Regions from separate parts of the Homo sapiens genome. Here region 2 is linked to region 1. A link means that fine-mapping ties the variant in region 1 to the expression of a gene that starts in the linked region. Tissue or cell type: whole blood. Region 1 holds a variant in brackets; the other region holds the start of a gene. All regions are shown on one strand. Distances are between the middles of the regions.

Region 1 (8,201 bases):
TCAAGGCCAGCCTGAGTAAGATGGTGAGACCCCATCTCCATTTAAAAAAAGCAAAAAACAGGCTAGCCGGGCGCGGTGGCTCATGCCTGTAATCCCAGCACTTTGGGAGGCCAAGGCGGGTGGATCACGAGGTCAGGAGTTCGAGACCAGCCTGGCCAACATGGTGAAATCACGTCTCTGCTAAAAATACAAAAATTAGCTGGGCGTGGTGGCCCACGCCTGTAGTCCCAGCTACTTGGGAGGCTGAAGCAGGAGAATTGTTTGAGGCTGAAGCAGGAGAATTGCTTGAACCCGGGAGGCAGAGGTTGAGTGAGCTGAGATTGCACCACCGTACTCCAGCCTGGGCGACAGAGCGAGACTGTGTCTCAAAAGAAAAAAAAACACACACACACACACAAAACACACACACACAAAGAATGAAATGGGCACAGGGACCCATCAGTACATTTGAATCAGAATATTTCAGATCAACCTGCAGCAATTTGTGAGCGTTTGTTTATTTAACAGCTCTTTTGAGATGTGATTCACGTACCCCACTATGCAGTCATTTAAAATACGCAATTCATTGGCTTTTAATATATTCACAGAGTTGTGCCACCATCACCACAGTCAATTTTAAAACCTTTAATCATCCTAGAAGGAAACCCCTCAACCCTCCGTTGTCAGCCTCCAATCCCTCCCACTCCCAGCTCTAGGTAACCTCTGATCTTTCTGTCTCTATAGGTTTGCCTATTCTGGACATTTCATATAAATGGCATCATATGTGGTCCTTCATGACTGGTTTCTTCCTCTTAGCAGAATGTTTTTGGTTCATCCATGTTGTAGCTCATAGCAGTACTTTATTGCGGAACATTATTTCATTGTATGCGTGGCTACACCACATTCTGCTTATCCGTTCATCAGCTGATGGACGTTTGAGTTGTTTCCACCTTGGCTATTATGAGCATTCATTGAACAATTATTTGCTTTTAGGTAATTTATTTTAAGTGGTATGTAGTCATTGTGGAAACTTTGAAAAATATTAAAGAATATAAAGGATGTGATAAAATTTGCTCATAATCCCACCACTCAAAAAAAAAAAGCTTTATTAACACGTTTTCTGTGGGGAAAAAAATGCATGTTTATATAATTTGTTTTATAATTCTTTATTTCTCTTGAAGATTTGCTTTGCATTTGAACAGATTTTGTTTGCTAAATCACAGCAAGACTGGCCAACTGCAGTTGTCATAAATAATTTATCAGTCATTGTGCAATGGGAGTATAGTGGAGTTATCTGCCATCAGATGGGCATGGGGAGGGTTTAGAGAAAATTTCACAGAGGAGGAAACATATATTATGAAAATATGCATGAGGTTCTGATACCTGTCAGTAAATAAAACATTGGGTCTTCTAATAAGGTCGTATTTGTTCTGTTGTAGGAGGCTGGCAGGATGTACAGTTTTTATCACAGGTGCAAGCCGTGGCATTGGCAAAGCTATTGCATTGAAAGCAGCAAAGGATGGAGCAAATATTGTTATTGCTGCAAAGACCGCCCAGCCACATCCAAAACTTCTAGGCACAATCTATACTGCTGCTGAAGAAAGTGAGTGTGACAGTGCCATTTGATAAAATGTCTTTCTAGTGGTTTCAATACATAGAGAATTTGCTGGAGAGTTTAGTTAAAGCTATTTGAAAGCTACCCTGAACATAATTTTATCTAGTGAAAGAAGTATTTATGTTGTCACCTTGGGGCAGTGCTTCTGACCGTTTTTCTCCACCAGCACTTTTAAGCAATGTGAGAAACTCCAGTTAAAAATCTTATTTCATGGCGGGGCGTGGTGACTCACACCTGTAATTTCACCCAGCTACTCGGGAGGCTGAGGCAGGAGAATCACTTGAACCTGGGAGGTGGAGGTTGCAGTGAGCCAAGATCATGCCACAGCACTCCAGCTTGGGTGACAGAGCGAGACTCCATCTCTTAAAAAAAAAAAAATCTTGGTTCTTGAGGGCAGTGGTTCTTGGATGGGAGGGGGAGTAGGGAAGTGGAGTAGAGAGGAGAGAATTTGATTGGTGAGTGGCATGAACTCTTTGAGAAAGCGTTCTGTGTTATTTATTCTCTGTACAATTTGCAAGTCATCATTTTAATACTTTTAGTTGACAAATAATTATCACATACTTCTATTTAAGGCATAGCGCTAGGCACAGAGCCAGGAGAGAGGGCTTAAAAATTCAAGTTCAGTTGACATTGCTAGTTTTGTTAATCATGTTCAGAGCACTGTGGTTATGTTAGAGGAATGCATGTGAAGTGTTTATGAGTGAAATGATGTCAGGGATTTGCTTTAAAACACACCAGCAAAAAATAAAACAGGGGACAGGAAAGATAAACATATTAACTGACAAAACTAACAATCGTTGAAGATAGGTGATGGATTCCTGTTAGTTTATTACAGCATCTTTACATTTTTATATAGTTTAGAATATTTCCACAATAAAAAGTTTTTAAAAATTACTTTCAACTGGGTGAGGTGGCTCAAGCCTGTAATCCCAGCACTTTGGGAGGCCAAGGCGGGTGGATCACTTGAGGTCAGGAGTGCGAGACCAGCCTGACCAACATGGCAAAACCGTGTCTCTACAAAAAATAGAAAAATTAGCCTGGCGTGGTGGTGCATGCCTATAGTCCCAGCTACTTGGGAAGCTGAGGTGGGAGGATCCTTTGAGCCTGGGAGATTGAGGCTGCAGTGAGCTGTGTTTGTGCCACTTCACCCAAGCCTGGGCAAGAGAGTGAGACCCTGTCTGAAAAACAAAAACAAACAAACAAAAAACTTCCTTTTTTTAGCTTTTTAAAAAAATTACAAAGAAACCCCCACCAAACCTTCGTTTTTGTTTTTTAATAGTGTTAGCCTAGCTAGTCTGTCCTGCTATATGGTAGAGTCACTGGTGGTAAGATAGAGTTATTTATATTGATTTTCTGAAAACAGGGTACTTTTTTCTTTTGACTGTGATATTGGAATTAAAGGTATAATATTTAAATGCTTTAACGCTTTTTCATTTTGTATCCTTTATATAAGTTGAAGCAGTTGGAGGAAAGGCCTTGCCATGTATTGTTGATGTGAGAGATGAACAGCAGATCAGTGCTGCAGTGGAGAAAGCCATCAAGAAATTTGGAGGTAATACCTTCATTCTGAAAAAATTATTGGATATTGGTAAAATAAAGGTATAACTATAATGTTAATTTAAAAATTTGTTTTGAGTTTTGAATTTTCTGAGTCTTTGGAGAAATACGTATTTGCTCACACAGAACATGATTTAAAACCATCTGATAAGGCTGGGCGTGGTGGCTCACACCTGTAATCCCAGCACTTTGGGAGGCCGAGGCAGGCAGATCACTTGAGGTCAGGAGTTTAAGACCAGCCTGGCCAACATGGTGAAACCCCGTCTCTACTAAAAATACAAAAATTAGCTGAACATGGTGGTGGATGCCTGTAATCCCAGCTACTCAGGAGGCTGAGGTGGAAGAATTGCTTGAACCTGGGAGGTGGAGGTTGCAGTGAGCTGAGATTGCACCACTGCATTCCAGCCTGGGTGACAGAGCAAGACTCTGTCTCAAAAAGAAAAAAAAAAAAAAGAAAAAGAGTGTGGAATGATAGACTGTGGAGACTGGGAAGAAAGAAGGGATGCAAGGGGGGTAGATGAAGAGAAATTACTTAATCGGTACAATGTTTGCTGTTTGGGTGATGGATACCCTAAAAGTCCTGGACACTGCACAATCTATGTATGTGAGAAAATTGCACTTGTGCCTTATATATTTGTTTTTGAAAAAATTCTTCCTTTATGTGGTTAAATTTCATCTTCTTCACAAA[GT/G]CAGTTCCCTCACCATGCCAACTAATCAGAATTATATTTTTCTTTCTCTGATTTCTTTTTTCTTTTTTTTTGAGACTGAGTCTTGCTCTTGTCACCCAGGCTGGAGTGCAGTGGCGCAATCTCGGCTCACTGCAACCTCTGCCTCCTGGGTTCAAGCGATTCTCCTGCCTCAGCCTCCCGAGTAGCTGGGATTACAGGCGCCTGCCACCATGCCCAGCTAATTTTTGTATATTTAGTAGAGACAGGTTTCGCCACATTGGCCAGGCTGGTCTCGAACTCCTGACTTCATGATCCACCCAACTCAGCCTCCCAAAGTGCTGGGATTACAGGCGTGAGCCACCGTGCCCGGCCTCTCTGATTTCTTAAAACATTCATTTGATCCTTATCTTGTACTATTTTAGATCTTAGTATTTCTTTTCTCCCCAATTAGTTCAAAAGTTCCTAGAAAAAAGGTGTTGGGGATTGAGCTAAGGCTTTCATGGTATTATAGTAGGGCACCTAGGCATGTCCAAATCCTGCCTAAACCATTACCACTCTCCCCGCTAATGTTCTGGAGGACCATATGTACATGTGAGGGACAATGGCCAGTGGAAAATGAGGGAATGCTTCAGTGTTAGCAAGGCTGTACTTATAATCCCAATGCAGAGTGCTGTGGGGTGCTGGACTGAAGCACGGAGCTTTGGCTCAAGTGGAGCCTCTTCCCTTAAATCCAAAATCTTACCCCTAGCCGGCAGCCTTTCCCAAAGAAATGTGAATGCCTGTGTCAGAAGAGGAGAGAAAATGCAAAATGATGTTTGTCCAACTGATAGGGCGCTAAATGTGAAATGTGCCACGCTCAAATGCAGGATATTTTATCTAAAATGACTTCACCTAGTAGTAAAAGTGGTTAACTAGTGCCACTTAGGATTTGATGTAATTAGTTTATCCACTAATTTTTGGAGAGGACGTAAGGGGAGAAAGCTGAAGCTTTTCATTCTCCCATATTCATTCAGTTTTAGTTCTTTTTTTTTTCTTCTTTGAAACAGGGTCTCACTCTGTCACCCAGACTGGTATGTAGTGGCATGATCGTGGCTCACCACAGCTTTGGCCTCCTGGGCTCAGGTGATCCTCCAACCCCAGCCTCCCAAGAAGCTGGGACTATAGGTGCCCACCACCAGGCCTAGCTAATTTTTGTGTTTTTAGTAGAGATGGGGTTTCACCATGTTGGCCAGGCTGGTCTCAAACTCCTGACCTCAAGGGATCCACCCACCTCAACTTCTCAAAGTGCTGGGGTTACAAGCATGAGCCACTGTCCCCAGCCTTGAATTTATTATTTAATTTTTTAAAATTGTGGTAAAATACACATAACATAAAATTTACCATCCTATTTTTAAGTGTACAGTTCAGTGACATTGAAGTTTATTATATTGTTACACAACCATCATTAAGTACACTTCACAAAGAATAATGAAGACCAGGTAGAAACAAAGAAAAAATGTTTGACATAGTTTTTGTATTTTTACCATTTTCCTTTAATGTTATTTCACTAAGCATATAACTATAAGCAAAACTTGTTGGTTATAGGTAGAAACTAGATAGAATTTGCAGAAATAGTAGTTACTCTAGGTTTATTTTTTGTGTGTGTGTATGAGTCACTAAAACAAAATTGATCCACTTTGATGATCTGCCTGGGATTGAAACAGTAGGTCTTTCTCTTTTCCCAGTTCTCAAGACCAGAAAGGAGCCTTTCCCTTTAAGTGAGGGGCCTTGGGGGAAGGGAGACTACTATGCTTGGAGGGAGGACAGGCCTTTGAAACTTCATGCTAGAGAGGAAGAAAGACTTTAAGGAATTTGATCCAAGGTTTATGGAGACAGGGAGGGACAACCAGGAGGTAAGAGAACAGTTAAGAGTGGAAGCTACAAACCACCGAAGACTAAGCCTCCTTGTAGTTTCACATGGAGCTCTGGCAATTGGCTATATCTCCACTGTGCTAGTGACAATCATGCAGGTGCTATTTTGAAATAGCTACCAGTCTTGCATTGGTAGTGGTTAGTCATATTATCTAAAGGAAGTATAGCCATGCATTGCTTAATGATGGGGATATGTTCTGAGAAAGGCATTATTAGGTGATTTTATGATCGTATGAACATAGAGTATACTTACACAAACATAGATAGTCTAGCTGACCACATACCTAGGCTGTATGGCATAGCCTATTGCTTCCAGGCTGTAAAGCTGTATAACATGTTACTGTACTGACTACTGTAGGCGTTTGTAACACAACAGTAAGTATGTATCTGAACAAACTTAGACAGAAAAGAGATAAAATAAAAAAACAGTATTGTAATCTTAAGGGACCATGTTGCGTATATGGGCCATTGTTGATTGAAATGTTAGGTGTGGTACATGACTGTATTTGTGAATCAACTGAGGGTTCAAGAGAGTAAACGCTTTTTTTGTGTGTGATAAAAAGTCTTTCATTAAAATGAAATTGATTATTTTGAAAACAGGAATTGATATTCTGGTAAATAATGCCAGTGCCATTAGTTTGACCAATACATTGGACACACCTACCAAGAGATTGGATCTGATGATGAACGTGAACACCAGAGGCACCTACCTTGCGTAAGTTTGCAAGAAGAGTTGTTGGGGAGGAAGTTGCGGTGTTTCTCAGGGAACTTACATAGTTGTAAACAGATTTGAGCCAAATTAACAGTGTAGTTCAAAATCTAGTCAATCCTTATAAGGGTCTAAAAGTCCTTCATTCAGTCAATAGTATTTTATTTTATTTTTTATTTATTTATTTTTTTGAGATGGAGTTTCATTCTTGTTGCCCAGGCTGGAGTGCAGTGGCACGATCTCAGCTCACTGCAACCTTTGCCTCCTAGGTTCAAGCGATTCTCCTGCCTCAGCCTCCTGAGTAGCTGGGATTACAGGCGCCCACCACCATGCCCAGTTGATTTTTTGTATTTTTAGTAGAGACAGGGTTTTACCATGTTGGCCAGGCTGGTCTCAAACTCCTTACCTCAGGTGATCCACCCACCTTGGCCTCCCAAAGTGCTGGGATTACAGGCATGAGCCACCATGCCCAGCCCGATAGTATTTTAAATAGCTTTATTTGGAGCTCCTTTTCTCTATGAATTTAGGAAAGACTAAAGTAGGCTGAGTGCAGTGGCTCACACCTGTAATTTCAGCACTTTGGGTGAGGGGAGTATTATTGGAGGCCAGGAGATTGAGACTGAGATGCACAAGATGGCAAGACGCTGTCTCTACAAAAAAAAGTTTTTAAAATCAGGCAGGCATAGTGGTTTGTGTGCTACTGAGACTGTGGTGGTGGTCTCATCTACTCAGGAGACTGAGGCAAGAGGATCCCTTGAGCCCAGGAGTTTGAGGCTACAATGAGCTGTGATCATGCCACTGCACTCCAGCCTGGGTAACAGAGAAAGACTGTCTCCAAAGAAAAAAAAAAAAGACTAAAGTGTAGCTCAAGCATTTTCTCAAATATTTGCATGTGTAAATACTTACATGTATACTCTGTCTTTCATAGGACACAGTCCTTTCATAGGACTATTTAGGATTACTGAAGCCAGCAATAGTCTCCTTCCTCTGAAAAAGACCTGGCGTTAAAAAAAAAAAAAGACGTAGGTTTTAGTTATTTAAATAACAGTAAGGTCATTCTCATTATGAATCACACTTTATTGTAACCAATAAAAACACTAATACTTTCTTGGGCTTTGCCGGGGAAATGTAGACTATCGAATGAAAGAACATAGTCTTGATCTGTTCTGGATTCATCAGACAACCTGTCTTATTGTCCATTTATTTATCTGTTTATTTACCCTCTGGTTCTATATTTTCCATGTGGATATCAGGATACATCAGGTTAGAACTTGCTTCTGTACCTTACATGTATCTTGTTAACACACAGAATAGGTGGTTAGGAGCTTAGGCTCTGGAGTAAGACTGCTTGGATTCAAATCTTAACACTCACCCCTCATGACTTTCTATTTTGTGACCTTGGACAAGTAACTTAACTTCTTGCAGATTCAGTTTCTTTACTTTTAAAATGGCAATAATACAGTAATATGTTATAGGGTTGGTCACGAGGGTTAAATGTCTAAGTTATTAAGTTAGAGTCCTGAATTTTTCCCTCAGGTATGTTTTGTTGGGTCTGCAAAACTTGGCCCAGACAGTGTTAAAACAAAATTGTTTTCATTAGTTACCTACATTCAAAGTTTTATTAGTTAGGGCCAGGCATGGCGGCTCATGCTTGTAATCCCAGCACTTTGGGAGGCTGAGCCAGGCGGGTCACTTGAGCCCAGGAGTTCGAAACCAGCCTAGACAACATGGCAAAACCCTGTCTCTACAAAAAATAGAAAAA
Region 2 (8,155 bases), 27 kb before region 1:
GTCACATGGTGACTTAATGACCCATAGTCAAACGTTCAGTTTCCACCAAAGCCCAGTAACAGGCTAAGAGCTGTCTCTCAAAAGGAGAGTAGTTATCTGCAGAAGAAGGCAGGGTCTTGCTCCAAAATCCTAGAGGCCTCCACTGTGATTCATTTATGGTGGCCTGGCAAAGGCTCCAAATAGCATCCCTATCTGCCACTCATCCCTCAAGCACTATTGGATCTGCTGGGTCATATGGCCCAAGTGGCAGAACAGCTTGCACAGCAGCCTGGACCTGTTGCAGAGCCTTCTCCTGTTCTGGACCCTACTTCTGGTACCAAAATCCGTATTAGTCAGGGTTCTCTAGAGGATATATATATATATATATATATCCTATTACTTCCTTATATACGTGTGTGTGTGTGTGTGTGTGTGTGTGTGTGTGTGTGTAGGGGAGTTTATTAAGTTTTTTTTTTTTTTTTTTTTGAGAAAGAGTCTCGGTCTGTCACCAGGCTGGAGTGCAGTGGCGTGGTCTCCGCTCACTGCAACCTCCGCCTCCCAGGTTCAAGCGATTCTCCTGCCTTAGCCTCCCGAGTAGCTGGGACTACAGGTGTGTGCTACCACGCCCAGCTACTTTTTGTATTTTTAGTAGAGATGGGGTTTCACCACGTTGGCCAGGATGGTCTCCATCTCTTGACCTTGTGATCCGCCTGCCTCGGCCTCCCAAAGTGCTGGGATTACAGGCATAAGCCACCGCGCCCAGCCTATTAAGTATTAACTCACATGATCACAAGGTCCCATAATAGGCCATCTGCAAGCTGAGGTGCAAGGAGAGCCAGTCCAAGTCCCGAAACTGAACCTGGAGTCTGATGTTGGAGGGCAAGAAGGGGATAAACGCACAGGAGAAGGATGTAGGCTGGGAGGCTAGGCCAGTCTCATCTTTTCAGGTTTTTCTGCCTGTCTTATATTCACTGGCAGCTGATTAGATGGTACCCACTCAGATTAAGGGTGGGTCTGCCCTTCCCAGCCCACTGACTCAAATGTTAATGTCCTTTGGCAATACCCTCACAGATACACCCAAGACCAATACTTTGCATCCTTCAATACCATCAAGTTGACACTCAGTATTAACCATCACAAGCCCTATGAAATAAAAAGTTTTATGACCCCTTTCTTCCCAGAATTATGAATGCCAATTTACTTGCTCTACATTTACGCAACTTCCATGACCTGGGGTAGGTAGGTATGCAATGTTGTGTTACTTCCCCATTGTCCATATCCACTTGTGTCCCTGGCCATGGCCAACTAATTTACAGGTTGAAACATTTCCCAGCACCTTGGAAGGCTGTGTGGTGGGAGGATTGCTTGAGGTGAGGAGTTCAAGACCAACCTGGGCAACATAGTGAGACCCCTGTGTCTATAAAAAGTAAAATTAGCCAGGTGTGGTGGCACATGCCCGTGGTCCTGGCTACTTGGGTGGCTGAGCCCAGGAGGTTGAGGCTACAGTGAGCCATGATCATGCTGCTACACTCCAGCCTGGGTGACAGAGCAAGATCTTATCTCAAAAAAACAAAACAAAACGAAACACATTGTACTAGACTGTCTTAGTATTTGAAGCTTGAACAGATACACAGAAAAGACAGGGAAGCCACCTACAATGCATTCTAGAAAGATCATGCTGCTGAGGATCATGGAAGCACCTTAGTTCCCATTGTCAAGCTTAGTTGTTCAGCTCTTCCTTAAGTTATATAAACTATCCCAGAATTCTTCTAAATTCTCCAACCCCTTTAATTTGGTTTAAATTAGCCAAATTACATTAATGTTGCATATAACCAAAACTTAAGGGATATAAATTGGTTGGGAGAATGTGTTGTAACCAGTAGTCTGTCAGGAAACTGTTGCATTTTTAGGTAGTTTTATCAAGCTGAGAAGGGGTGAAATGAGTGAGACTTACCTGACTTTCAAGACATCTATTTTTCAAACCATTTGTTTTCACTTCTTTACTGTGTTATCACCATCCTCCCAGGACTTTACACCAGAAATCTGAAGGTCACCACTGATACCATCTTCCCCCTTTGCTCCTACATCTAATCATTAGTTACATCTGCCAGGTTCCATATCTTGAGTATGTCTTTTCATTTCTACTATTACTGCCTTAGTTCAGGTTACTACTTTTCTTACACATTACATTACTATGGGCTTTTAAATGGCTTCTGTGCCTTTATCTACTCACAAACTATTCTTCATGCTGCAGTCAGAAGTGTTCTAAGCCAAAATTATTCACCTTCCAAAATGAAGATCTAATTATGTTCACAAGTCCTCTCCTTCACCCATTCCTCACCTCTAGCATTAATCTAACACTAGGTTAATCAAGGTAATGGGGTAGAAGGTCATGGGTAACTCCAAATCACACTTTAAATGAACTCTAGTCAAAGTACTGAATACAATGGATTTAAACTTGCTTGGTAAAACTACCTCTAATAATTTAGGAATATATTTGCCTTCTGTGAAAGCCATCGCAAAGTATAAAAATAGTGTAAGTACAGGTATTTAGGCTCACAAAATATCGTTATGACTGAAAAATTGGCAAAGGTTTTTTGTTTGCTTTGCCTCTTCGTTGAGCTCTCTTTCCGTAACAAATGGAAATAGAAGCACACAAATTCAAGAAAGGAGGCTCTAACAGACTGAAGATATTGTGGCTTTCAAAAAGGAGAGAACATTTTAGATGATATGAAGGAAATGTCACCCCGTTACTAAGAATTCACTCTATTCGACAGATATATACACGCTTCAGCAAGTGCTCCTAAGGATGAGAGGAGAGTAAGTTATTTTCATCTAACAGTCTCTATCAACACTCTTCTTAAAACACCTAATGCTTAACAACAGTCTAAAGAACACACTGGCTACTCATACCTCCCATAGGCAGAGACCTTGTCCTTTTTGAGCTGCTGTATCTCAGGTAATCAGCAATCACTTAGTGGATGATAATAATTTGCAAATTCCTCTGGAGCCTCTAAAGACCGTATCATGAATCATCAATTCAAATGCCTACAGGAGTCGGGCAGGTGATATGCAGGAGGAAATAGAGTCATTTAGGGCCCATAACAAAGGGGAGAGAGGCCGGGCGCGGAGGCTCACGCCTGTAATCCCAGCACTTTGGAAGGCCGAGGCGGGCCAATCATTTGAGGTCAGGAGCTCGAGACCAGCCAGCCCAACATGGCGAAACCCCGTCTCTACTAAAAACACAAAAAAATTAGCCAGGCGTGGTGATGCATGCCTGTAGTCCCAGCTACTCCGGAGGCTGAGGGAGGAGAATCACTTGAACCCGGGAGGCGGAGGTTACAATGAGCCGAGATCCGCGCCACTGCACTTCAGCGTGGGCGACAGCGAGACTCCGTCTCAAAAAACAAAACAAAAACAAAGGAGAGAGTACATAAGCCATCTCCAGGCTAGTTTCTTTAACTAGTCTTCATATAATAATCTCCTCAAGGTCCTGTTCTATCCCTACAAAATACAAAACAGTTCCTCGTGTCTTCCTTCAAATATACTACAGTCTTTAGCTCATCAGAGTAGCTGAGTTAGTCCAAGGCATAATCCCAAAAGCGAAACTGAATGTCAGAATTGATCTCATTTCAACACTCATTCCAGAAGTAGAAACTTCTGCAAGTTCAGCTTTTGACTATGAATTCTTCAGCGCGACTTTTGCAGAGAGCTCTGTTCCAAGAAGCTGGCGCCTTAACACAAGCTATCTACCGATGCACAAGGGAAGGCTGGCTTGGGTCCAGATTCGGCGGGAGAGTGGAAACGCGACGCTGGCCGACTTCAGCCACAAAGGCAATTTCTGCCCAGGGCTAGCGTTCCTAAGAGGGGGCCGAGAGAACGCCAGGCTCGGGCGTAGGGGCAAGAAGACCCAGAGCTAACGCACCTCTCGGAGGGCCCAAGCTCAGGGCTCAGTCACCCTCCCAGCTCGGAGCCGGCGCTGGAACACAGCGGCGCGAGGAGAAACCCCTAGAGACAGGGAAAAGGTGGACGTAGCGGCTGACGCTGCCCAGACGCTAGGCGCCGACAGGAGCCTGATTGTCACCGTACGACCAGTGAGGGGGCGGGGCGGAGCTGTGCCTCAAAGCGCCTGCGCGGAGAGCCTGCAATCAGGGACCAGGCTTGGGAGGCGACGAAGAGGAACGCTGGGCGCAGGAGGCCCACTGCATACGCAGGCGCACTCGGCGATCCCGGCTTTTCCGCGCGCAGTTCCCGCACAGGCATCGGGGGGGGCAGGGGCGGGGCAGGGGCGGGGATAAATGCGGAGGGACGGTCCAGCTTTAGCTCTCTGCTCGCCGCCGCCGCTGTCGCCGCCACCTCCTCTGATCTACGAAAGTCATGTTACCCAACACCGGGTAAGGGGGTAGGGGCGGCGCGGGGAGAGACCCTGTCGGGCGAAGGGCGCGTCTCGGTGGGGCCGCCGCGGATCGCCCGGGCTGGCCGGCCCGGCTGTGGGAGGTCAAGGATACTGCCTGGGCACGCTCTGAGCTCTGGTCCGCGCTGGGCACTGTGCACCGAGAATCTGCGGTAACGTGTGAAAAGGAACACAAACTTTTGTATTACAGGATGGCAGCAGTGTAGAAACCTTTTCCACGGGTAAAGGGCCGAGGGGGAGTCACCACGCCGCCCCCAGTGCCGGCCCTCCCTGAGTTTAGCAGGAGTGCGTGCCTGGCCGAATGCGTGTGAGTTCTAGGTGAAAGGTCGCAGGAGCAGCTCCAGAGTTTAAAGAGTTTTCACTTGTTCCTGACGCTCAATTCTAGAGTAATAATGGAGTGTTTAAAAAATGATTTCCAAATTAGAAACTAAACCGATCTTAAAACATGGGTATCTTTGGGGGATTTTTTTTTCACCTTAAAAAATTGTGTTAAAATACGTACAAAATCTGCCATCTTAACCGTTTTTTAAGTGTACACTTCAGTAGTGTTAAGTAGATTCATATCGTTGTGCAGTCAATCTCCAGAACTTTTTTCATCTGCAAGCTGAAACTCTATCCATGAAACAACTCCTCTTCCCCACCTCCGCTCGTACATTGGCAACCACCATTCTACTTTCTGGTTTATGTAAGGTCTGGGTATCTTGAGTTGAGTGACGTGTTGTCAGATTTTGTAATTTGCCTGAAACATGCAGGCATATAGCCAAAGACTTAAAACAGTTCAAAGAGTATAGGGTAAAAAGTGAGTCTCCCCATCCCTAAAATCTAGTTCCCCAGTTACTTACGTTTCTATTTCGTGCATGTATGAACATAATTTGTATACATCCGGATACACACACACACACACACACACACACACATACCCTTTCTTAAAAATAGCAGCAGACTCTATTCTTGGTCTTGCTACTTTTAGTTGGTATGTCTTGGGACATTCTTTCTTTGTTTTTTTTAAAGACGGGGTCTCCCATGTTGCCCAGACTGGCCTGTAGCCTTGAACTCCCAGGCTGATGTTCCTCCCTTCTTAGCCTCTGGAGTATTTAGGATTACAGGCATGCACCGCTGTGCCCAGGGACATACATTTTTAGTACATGGCAGATCTTCCGCCTCCTTTTTTTTTCTTTTGAGATGGAGTCTCGCTCTGTCTTCCAGTCTGGAGTGCAGTGGCATGATCTCGGCTCACTGCAGCCTCCGCCTCCCGCAATTCTCCTGCCTCAGCCTCCCGAGTAGCTGGGACTTCAGGCGCGTGCCACCACGCCCTGTTGATTTTTTTGTATTTTTAGTACAGACGGGGTTTCACCATGTTAGCCAGGATGGTCTCAATCTCATGACCTCGTGATCCGTCTGCCTCGGCCTCCCAAAGTGCTGGGATTACAGGCGTAAGCCACTGCGCCTGGCCCCTCCTCCTTTTTAATGGTTGCATAATATTCTGTAACAGCTTGAGTATCCATTATCCAAAATGCTTGGTTCCAGACGTGTTCGGATTTCAGATTTTCAGATTTGGTTTGCTCAACCTGTATATGAATATACCTTTGTTTATTTAACCTGTTCCCTATTGTTGGATACTAGACTGTTTCCAGTTTTTTGGATACTCTTTTTTTGCTTCCATAATTATACTTGTATTTATCTATTTGCACATATATAAGTGTATATGTAGGATAAACTCCTGGAAGTGAAATTGCTGGATCAAAGAGTAAATGTGGCTGGGCACAGTGGCTCACGCCTGTAGTCCCAGCACTTTGGGAGGCCGAGGCGGGCGGATCACTGGAGGTCAAGAGTTCGAGACCAGCCTGGCCAACGTGGTGAAACTCCGTCTCCACTAAAACTACAAAATTACAAAAATTACAAATACAAAAATTAGCTGGACCTGGTAGCGGGCACCTGTAATCCCAGCTACTCAGGAGGCTGAGGCAGGAGAACCGCTTGAACCTGGAGGCGGAGGTGGCAGTGAGCCGAGATCATGCCACTGCCCTGCCCTCCACCCTGCGAGAGAGAGTGAGAGTCTGTCTCAAAAAGAAAAAAGAGGAAATGCACTTTATATTTTGACAGATATTTCCAGATGACCCCCCAGAAGGGTTGCACACCCAAAAGGATAAATGAGATCCTCTAATCCCACTTGTTGGCTAACCGCAAAATAGTTAATGATGAAAATCTAATTAGAGAAAAAAGTGTCACCTCATTATTGTTAAAATTTGCATTTATTTTATCACAAGTGTGGATTTGGATCTCTTTGTGTATTTAAACCAGGGACAATTTGATCCCCAGAGGACATTTGGTAATATCTCAAGACATTTTTGATAGTCACAATTGAATGGAGATGCTAATGGCATCTCGTGAGTAGAGTACAGGGATGCTGGTGCACATCCTACAATTCACAAGCATTCCGTACAACAAAGAATTATGTAGTCCAAAAGGTCAGTAGTGCAGAGGTTGAGAAACCCTGGTTTAAAGCCATCTATGTATCTTTATATTTGTCTGGCTTAACAAATGAGGTTTTTCGTTAATCTCTGAGGGCTCTGTGTATTTTAAAAATTTGTCTTTTATCACATTACAAATATTTTCCACAGTTTTTCATGTTGCATCTGGACTTTGATTATACTGTTTATTTAACATGGAGAAACATGTTTTTGTGAAGCCAGAGTTATCAGTCTCTTAAGGCTTTTGCATTTTTGAGTTAAACCAAGATCTTTTTTTTTTTTTTTGAGATGGAGTCTTGCTCTGTAAGCCTTTGAGTTAAACCGAGATCTTTCTTTCTGTCTTTCTTTTTTTTGAGATGGAATCTTGCTCTGTATGCCTTTGAGTTAAACCGAGATCTTTCTTTCTGTCTTTCTTTTTTTGAGATGGAATCTTGCTCTGTTGCCCAGGCTTGAGTGCAGTGGTGCGATCTCGTTTCACTGCAACCTCTGCCTCCCAGGTTTAAGTGGTTCTCCTGCCTTAGCCTCACAAGTAGCTGGGATTACAGGCGCACACCACCATGCCGGCTAATTTTTGTAATTTTAGTAGAGATGGAGTTTCACCATGTTGGCCAGGCTGGTCTCAAACTCCTGACCTCAAGTAATCCTCCTGACTCGGCATCCCAACATGCTGGGATTACAGGTGTGAGCCACCGTGCCTGGGCAGATCTTTTTATAATTAGTTTTCTTCTGATATTTTTATGGTCTTATATTTTTGTATTTTTCAAATATATTTGTATTGTCTATATTTTTTATAGTCAGATTTTTTTATCCCCCTGAGATTTCTTTCAGGAAGTGAGTTAGGAAGCCCACTTGATTTTTCTTCAGATGGCTGCTCATTTGTCCTAGCAGCATTGACCTAAGAGTTAATCTTTTCTCTTCTGCTCGAAATTCTACCTCTGTTGTATATTAAATTCTTGCACATATAGCGCTCTGTTTCTGGACTTTCTGCTCTGCTACTTTAGTCTCTATTCATGTACCAGTACCAGACTGTTTACTTAATTAATTAATTGAGACAGGGCCTCGCTCTGTCACCCAGGCTGGGGTGCATTGGCACCATCATAGTTCACTGCAGCCTTGATCTCCTGGGGTTAAGCAGTCCTCCCAGCTCATCTTCCCAATTAGGTGGGACTATAGACATGCGCCATAATGCCTGGCTATTTTTAAAAAATTTTTTTGTAGAGGAGTCTCACTTTGTTGCCCAGGCTGGTCTCAAACTCCTGGGCTCAAGTGATCCTCCTGCCTCAGCCCCCGA

The links. PIP is the estimated chance that this variant, and not a neighbour inherited with it, causes the effect.
Region 2: HSDL2 starts here. The variant in region 1 is fine-mapped to the expression of HSDL2 in whole blood (TOPMed, PIP above 0.99).

What each region holds. Positions count from the first base shown.
Region 1 is chr9:112,402,577-112,410,777 of GRCh38, forward strand. It overlaps HSDL2 (hydroxysteroid dehydrogenase like 2), which reads left to right. Exons shown (of 11, transcript NM_032303.5): 2 at 1,419-1,582; 3 at 3,048-3,146; 4 at 6,331-6,445. Among named protein-coding and RNA genes, the nearest start is that of HSDL2, 27 kb to the left of the region's middle. The variant GT/G (reference allele first, on the strand shown) is at 3,840.
Region 2 is chr9:112,375,808-112,383,962 of GRCh38, forward strand. HSDL2 (hydroxysteroid dehydrogenase like 2) reads left to right here and starts at 4,301. Exons shown (of 11, transcript NM_032303.5): 1 at 4,301-4,373. The coding sequence starts at 4,357. It also overlaps a transcript of PTBP3 not described here. RefSeq lists enhancers at 3,485-3,534, 3,635-3,884, 3,884-4,483, 3,915-4,034 and a silencer at 4,255-4,504.